Homo sapiens: one gene and its partner. The protein of the gene in region 1 interacts with the protein of each later gene in a pairwise test. Each region holds a gene or a part of one and is shown on either strand. Other genes may lie near its edges.

Region 1 (3,814 bases):
GCCCACTGGGCATCAGGAGCCCTCTCCCAGAAGATACATCGCATAGCGCAAGCTGCTTTCTTCTTTTCTCACATGACCTAGAGACAGCCCCTGGTAACCACAGTTCTGCTTTCTGTCTTTACGGATTTACCTAACTGGGTATGTTACAGAAGCATGGTCTTTTATGGTGTGCTTCTTTCACTTAGCATGATGTTTTCAAGGTCCATCCATGTGATAGCAGGTATCAGTATGCCTTTTTTAAATGACTGAATAATATTCCATTGTGTGAATAGACCACATTTTGTTTTTCCTTTCAGCAGTTGATGGACTTTTGGGTTGTATCTACCCTTTGGCTGTTATTAATACTGCTGCTATGAACCTTTGTACACAAGTTTAATGCAACATATATTTTTCATTGTTCTTGGGAATACCTAGGAGTAGATTTGCTGGGCCATATGTTAATTCTGCGTTTAAGGAACATTGCAGTTTTGAGGAGCTGCTAAACTGTTTACCAAAGGGATTGCAGGGTTTTCCATTTCCACCAGTAGTGTATGAAGGCTCCAATTTCTCTACCTCCTTGCCAATACTTGGTATTATGTGGCTTTTTGGTTATAGCTATCCTAGTGTGTATGAAAAGGTATCTCAGTGTGATTTACAGTTTTGGGACTAATATCTAGGTATATAATCCATTTTGAGTTAGTTTTTTATATGGTGTGAGGTAAGGATCCAACTCCCTTCTTTTTCATGTGGCGATCCAGTCAGTTGTCCCAGGACCATTTTGTGAAGAAACTATTCTTTCCCCCACAATTTACTCAGATGCATTTTTAAACTGCTGCAGTTGTCACTTTTCATGGGGGCAGAGTGTTGGAGCTGGACTCCTGGTAAGAGGGAAGCCTTGGGGTGGGCAGGGCCCCACCCATCAGAGACACCCCTCGAGAAGATGGAATAGTCTTTGCCTGGCATGTGCAAAACGGGAGTGCATTGAGGACTGGGGACCTGGATCTGAAGTGACAGTATCCAGGTGTAGTTTCTTGTGGCTGTCCACACTCATCTGTTTCCCACTGCCAGTGGGTATCTCACATGTCACACCCACAGAGGGCATCCTGTTTGAAAGCAAATAGGAGAGCGATTCCCCCTAAATTATGAACCCCTAGATGGCAGGAATTGGGTCCCATTGATCTGTGTCTCTTCAATGACTGATGCATGCTGAATCGTCAGTCAATGCATGTTTGGTTGTTGAAGCTAGGCGCTGAGTTAACAAAAGCTGCTTTCTCTGAGTAACTGGACCTCTTGCAGGGGGGCGGGTCTCTCCTGCTATGGCAGAGTCTCTGCCTGTCTCTCTTTCTTCCTGTGTATTTTTCCCCTGTGTTTGTGATTGCTCCCTCCTCTAAACTCCAGTTGTCTTCAATGTCTGCACCATCCACGTGTTTTGATTTTTATCTTTTCATCTCTATGTCCTGTCTTTGCAGCTCAATCACACCCTTCCTTGATAGCAGGAGCTGTGTGTTGTACTTATTTGGGTCTCCAGTATCTAGTACATGATACTCAGTGTGTAGTTTTGGATGATGAAGTGGTCCCCTGATATTAGTGACCTGCTGCTGAATTTGAGGCCGATGGTTTCAGCCCTTCACCATAGTGGCATTCCACTGGCCAGCTGCTATAGATACCTGCCTGGCATAGGTGGATATTTGGGGAGCCAGTATTTTGAAAGGGCTCAGAGTTTACTGATGTGAAATAAATTAAAGAAAGAAACCGTAGTCCCAGCCTTTTAGTCTGTACCTCCAGGCATGGTAACCTTTACCCTGTGTCCCCCCTGAGACCAACACCAGATGTAGCTGACTATTGAGAGCTGAATGCTGTCTCTGTCTCTTCCTGCATCTCTGTAAATCAAAGGGCATATGAAAGTAAGCCAACTCCCCTCATGGTTGTGCACACCTGCTCAGTGAATCTCATTATGTGATCTCCTCCTTGTTTAGGGCTCTGGCTGACATCTTAAGACAACAGGGACCAATCCCCATAGCACACTGTGAAAGAGAAACTATCTCGGCTATCGATACCTCTCCCAAAGAGAACACGCCGGTCAGATCGTCCTCCAAAAACCACTACACTCCTGTGCGTACGGCCAAGCAGACTCCAGGTAAGTAACAGCTGGGCACCTTGATTCTTTGCTGAGGCTGGTGAGAGGTTTCAGGATGTTTCTGCTCTGGTGGGGCAGGTTGTGGACCATGATGGTGTGATGAGGGACTCTCATGGACAGGCAGGCTGGCAAAAGATTTTTGGGACTCTCTCCCTGGGGTGAGTTTGGAATGGGCAAGACTGCTGCCGGTCAGTGTCTGGGCTGGATGAGGACTGACAATTTCAGGCACTTGTGACCTAGTGAGTGGTTGGTATAATTCTCTTACCGGAAAAGGAGCTTGCAGCATCCATAGCAGGGTATGGCCATCCATTCGCCCACGTGGTGGGAAACTTTAGGCTGAGTAGGATGCTAGATATGTGACAAGAAATTACTGTACCCCAATGTAGAGCCTGCTCAACTATTGGGATCTCAAAGAGCTCCTTCCTGAGGGTGAGAATTAACATCTGTATTTTTGAGTGACCTTTTCCTGTGCTCTGTAGATTCCCTGGATGTATGATGAGTTGCCATAAAATAACAATATGCCTTTTACTTTTTGTACTTATCATAGCTATAACTGTGAAGAAAATGGCAGGGCTTATTTTCCTTGTCTTACGGGTCAATATATGCAGCTCAAAGAAATTTAGTAACTTGAACAAGGTCACTGAGATGTTAATAATAATTTAAAAATCAGTAATAACAGTAATATAACCTAAATATTTATTGGAATCTTGTTCTGTGCCAAGAGTCATGCTGAGCCTTTTACATATATTTTCTTATTTATTCTCCACAGCAATCTTAGAAGTACTTATATTATCCCCATTTTGTGTGAGGAATGGAAAGGTTAAGTAACTTTCCCAAGGTCACATGATTAGTAAGAGAGAAAAACAAGATTCAAGCCAAGGCAAATAGTTAACAACAGTAAGAACTAGGAAACCGTAATATCCTTACCCAGTTAAGGGTATGAATCCAAAATATCTGAGTGGACAGTCTCCTTAACAAGTACAGCTTGGGAAGTCATCTCTTGTAGTGAGTGTTTCCAGATAGCCTCTTACTGGTACTAATCCTAGTCCCAGAGAAAGCTTTTACTTTGATGCTTGGATCTGAAATCTGCACATCTATTGCTCAACAGTTTTCAGAGGATGGGCAATGTGATCTGAACTAAACCTGCAATAAGGATATATAGCCACTAGGTGGCAGTGGGTGTGATCAAATCCAAACTATAGCAAAGGTGCTGATGAGACCAAATTTATTTTCCATTCATTCTTTAATTTTCTTAAATTTATTACGTCAGAAACCTAATATTTGCTTTTAAAATAGCATTCTTAAATCTTTTGAGAACCTAATAAAGGCAGATGACACTCCCTCCTGAAAAATACAAATACATATACATATTCATATTCAATCAACAGTTTGTATATGATTGAGGGGAATTAATAGATTCATCCAAAGTTAAAAACCTCTGCTGTAAAGGTAAAGATGAGGGCTCCACCTTTGCAAAATGTCTAAGATGCATTTTCAGCTTTAATACCATAGGTCCTTAAAACAAGCAATAGAAGGAATCTTGGCAAAAACTTCTGGACCAGTGGTCATCTACATGGCAGCGTTTTAGAATCACCTGAGGAGGTCTTAAAATTGCTGATGCCTGGGCTCCACAGAATCACTAGAATTTCTAGGGATGGTGCTGGCATCACATTAGTGTTTTAAACAATCTCCCCAAGG
Region 2 (3,814 bases), on another chromosome or scaffold:
TTTCCTAGTGGACTCTGCTATGTGTGCACGGCTGCCTATGGGCGCCGCTTCCTTCCTGTCTCCTGCCATCCAAACTGATTTGCCCACACTGGAGAATGGGGTGCCTCTTCAAAGACTCAGCTCCACCATCCCAGCTTCTGAGCTGCTGCGATGGGACGGCCTCTCCTTTCGGAGGAGTCAGGAGGCTGAGGGAGGTGGTCAGGGGCATGCTGGACGGCGCTGTCTATCTGTGATCCCCCACCGTGGAGAGTGTCAGAAAGCTCCCAGAGGACAATGGAGGCCACTTGGTCCAGGTCCCTGTCCTCCAGCAGCTCTGTTCTGTGAGGGAAGAAGGTGCGCCGTGTGTGCAGGGCACAGGCCGCCTCCTCGTTGGTTCTACGGAAGGCCTTCCTCCTCAGTGAGCTAGACTCCAGAGCCAGGCCCAAGGCTGCCAGGCCTTGAGACTCCATGGCGAAGATAGAGGGGCTGTCCACACACATGCCACCCACCTCCTTGGAGGGGAAGGCCCATCAGGACTGAGACACCTGCTGTGTGAGCCAGCCTGTGAGTGTTCAGATACCCAGAGCCCCAAGTGGGGCAGTCAGCACGGACCCAAGGGCCTGGCGCATATCTTGGGCCCTCACAGAAAGCAGTCTGTCCCTGGTCCAGCCACATCACTGAGCTCAAGGTCTCACAAGGGCCTAGCCATGAGAGTGAGGCCAGCACCTCGGAGTAGCGGAGGACAGTGGGGTGGGGCTGCAGGCCGGCTGTGAGCAGAGTGCTGGGGACTCTGGCACTGGGTGGTCACAGTGGTTGGTTGGTTCAGGAGAGGTGAGAACAGTCAGCTAGCTCTTGGCAACGGTGCCCAGCTGTGGCTCAGTACAGCAGACAGGAGGAGGGAGCCACACAGAGCCCAGCCCAACCCTGGGGAGCTATCAGTGCCGTTGGGATCCTGCTGGAGACTGCCCTGCCCGTCGGGGTTCACAGTGCCTGCCCGTGGAGGCTTCCAGGGTGCAACAGAACCCCTGAGCCCTCTTGATGCCCACCTCAAAGGCAACTCACCCCCTCAAGCTGTCCTCAGCCCAAGGGGGAGAATTCACAGTGTTCGGTGGTGGTAGGTGCGAGAGCTGCAAGTGTACAGCGTCTACGCTGCCGCCCGCCCAAGAGGAGCAGGTCCCAGTGCAGGTGGGGCCTTGGCATCAGCAGCTGGAAGGAGAGAGTTGAGGACAGCAGAAAGATCGGATGGCAAAGGCACAGTGAGACTAGTGGAGACAGGGAGTGGGTTGTTTTAGAAGATAGTGGTCTCATACTTGGTGCTGAGGCTCCGCTTAGAGTCTGGTTTGGGGTCCACAACCCAGGAGACACTGGCATGGGATTGGGCATCTTGGTCCATATCAGGTGGTTCCAGCTGCCAAACAAGGAAGCAGTCAAGAGTCAGAGGGAGCTCTGTGCCAGGGCTGGAGGCAGCAGGCCCCTCCCACCCCCAGGCCAGGCTGTGGCCCCTGTGCTGGGAGGGGCAGCCCTTATTCTCCTCGGCCAAAGAGCAGGCCCCTGGGGGCAGGCGGAGGAGGGACACCCTCCTGGAGCATCTTGGGGAGGGCCACCTCCAGGCACAGCTTCTCTCCGGGATTTCTTGGGATTGCTCAGTTAAAGGACCCCTGTCCTAGGCGGGCCTCCTGCTCTAAGCCCCAGACCCACTCACACTGGGCAGGAAGGGGATATGGGGCTTGCAAATGTCCAGCCTCGGGTCTCTCTGGTAGGCCCAGAGAGCTCACCCCAAGGCAAGACCACAGCAGTCACCCCAGACCTCTGGAGAGAGGACACACAACAGAAAAACAGAGAGGGCTGAAGCACACACAGAACAGGCAGAGGGCATCTCAGGAAGAGGGGAAAGAATGTCACACAGGCAGAGGGAGAGGCCGCCAGAGGCTAAGAGCGCTCACGGTCACTTCGGGGAGACTGACACACAAGACAGCAGGAGGCGTAAAGACCTTGACTCCAGGACTAACAGATGGCAGCGGTAGGTAGGAAGGACGGTGGGTGGTGCAGGTGTGACAGTAACAACAGCGACTATCGGGGGGCAGCGGCACCTGGGGTGCAGAGCAAAGCAGACACAGACACAGGGATGGCGCAGTTACTGGGGGCTGCCTGCAGGCCGCTCTCTGCAGCCCCTTGACGGCCTTGCCCTTGGGGGAGCCCAGCGAGGGAGGGAAACAGGAGCATGAGAGGCCCGCCCAGGCCAGAGGAGCTGCTGCCTTTCCAGGGGCGAGACCTGGCAGGGTTGGGGGACAATTAAGAGGGTCATTTCCCTGGAGGGCCAGCTTTCTGGAAGTGCCAGAAGACCCTCCTCACGCTGACCACCCTGAGCCCTTGAATCCCTGGGGCCAGGGAGAGGGGGATCTTGGCCAGTGGGGCCCACGTACTGCGGATTTCCTCACGCCGACCCGAGGCTTAGGCACCGGTTTGGAAGATTTTGTTTCAATCATCTCAGCTGCAGAGGCGCCCGTCGCCCTGGACTTCTGGGCCTGCAGGGCCAACTGATAGGCCACTTCGAAGGCCTGCCCCAGCGTCAGGATGATCTCGTAGGTCAGGTTCTGGGAGGAAGCAGATCACCACTTAAGCACCTGGTTCAGGAGCCGCTTCACACTGGATATGCCCTTCCTCGCAGGGACCATGTGTCCCCCTCTAAGTCTACCCGGGAGCGCTCCTACCTCCTTCCACTCTTCCCTCCTTTCCCTCCTTTACTCTTCCTAGGTCTCTGTTGTTCTTCCCGCTCTACACAGGATGTGGCCGGGAGCTGGGCTGCGGGGAGGGCAGGTGCACACTGCTGTAAGCCTACGGCAGGTCTTTTCCAAGGCAGGGTGCCGTGCCTGCAGCAGTACTTGGGTATTTCTTACCATTTAATGTAAGTGGTGCTAGTGCTTTTATTTTTAATGTGTCACCGACAAAGTCTGTGAGTGCTGTGCCCCTAACTCCATTTCCCCATAAACCCTGTGGTTTTCCTTGTGTGATTTTACACAGCACAGTGATTGTTAGGAGCGTATGTGTGGCGTTACAGCAGAACTGAGTGTATGTGGGAAAAGTCAGCAACAGGTAAATGCCACTGACTGTGCTGTGTGGACCACCTCATCCATCTCACAGTGGCCCCTGAGGTGGGCCACATTATATCCCCTCCAGACAGATGAGGAAGCAGGCAGATGCGATGTTTCCAAGCTCACACAGCCAGCAAGCAGCAAAGCCTGGTTCCTCCTAACCTTCACTGGCCCAGAGCAAACAGAGGACTGGGGTGGATGAGGTCCCAGGAGTGTGGGGATGCCCAGAGCTGCCTGTATTCCAGGAGCCACAGAGATTCTGGAAGCAGCTGCTATCCCTGAGGGCGGCAGAGACCTGGACCCCTCTGACTTCCTCCCGGGGTGAGGAAGCAGCCTGGGGCCACTCTCATGCTTTGTTGCAGGTTAGAGGGAACCCCCGCCTGTGGGCTGTCAGTTCTGGTCTGCTCCCTGTGGGCAGCTGTGTGAGAATGAACTCTCCTCGGCCCAGTGGCATCCAGAGCCGAGCCTCAGCAGGAATTTGAGGGAAGAAAATCTGCCAAAGAGGGCACCACTGCCCCTAAGAGGGAAGTAGAGGGCATTTCTGGGAGGCGGCCCAGCCAGAGGTTGGAGACCTAGGGCAGGGAGCCGGGGGAAACAAAGGCCTTGCCTGACCTAAGAAAACACTCGCCAAAAAGCTGGAAAGTCAGGGGCGGTGGCTCACGCCTATTATCCAGTTACGTGGGAGGCTGAGGTGGGTAACTTGCCTGAACCCAGGAGTGCAAGGCAAGCCTGGGCAACATAGT

Evidence for each region.
Region 2: the proteins of SHISA6 (region 1) and ANKS1A interact in a two-hybrid assay, tested with the Homo sapiens proteins (one large-scale study listed by BioGRID).

Annotation. Positions count from the first base shown.
Region 1 is NC_000017.11:11,261,411-11,265,224, forward strand, and holds part of SHISA6 (protein shisa-6 isoform 1 precursor), read left to right. Parts: intron 1-1,955; coding exon 1,956-2,116; intron 2,117-3,814. UniProt on the Homo sapiens protein: Involved in maintenance of high-frequency synaptic transmission at hippocampal CA3-CA1 synapses.
Region 2 is NC_000006.12:35,084,525-35,088,338, reverse strand, and holds part of ANKS1A (ankyrin repeat and SAM domain-containing protein 1A), read right to left. Parts: intron 2,574-3,814; coding exon 2,403-2,573; intron 1,388-2,402; coding exon 1,290-1,387; coding exon of another isoform or gene 1,268-1,289; exon of another isoform or gene 1-1,267. UniProt on the Homo sapiens protein: Regulator of different signaling pathways. Regulates EPHA8 receptor tyrosine kinase signaling to control cell migration and neurite retraction.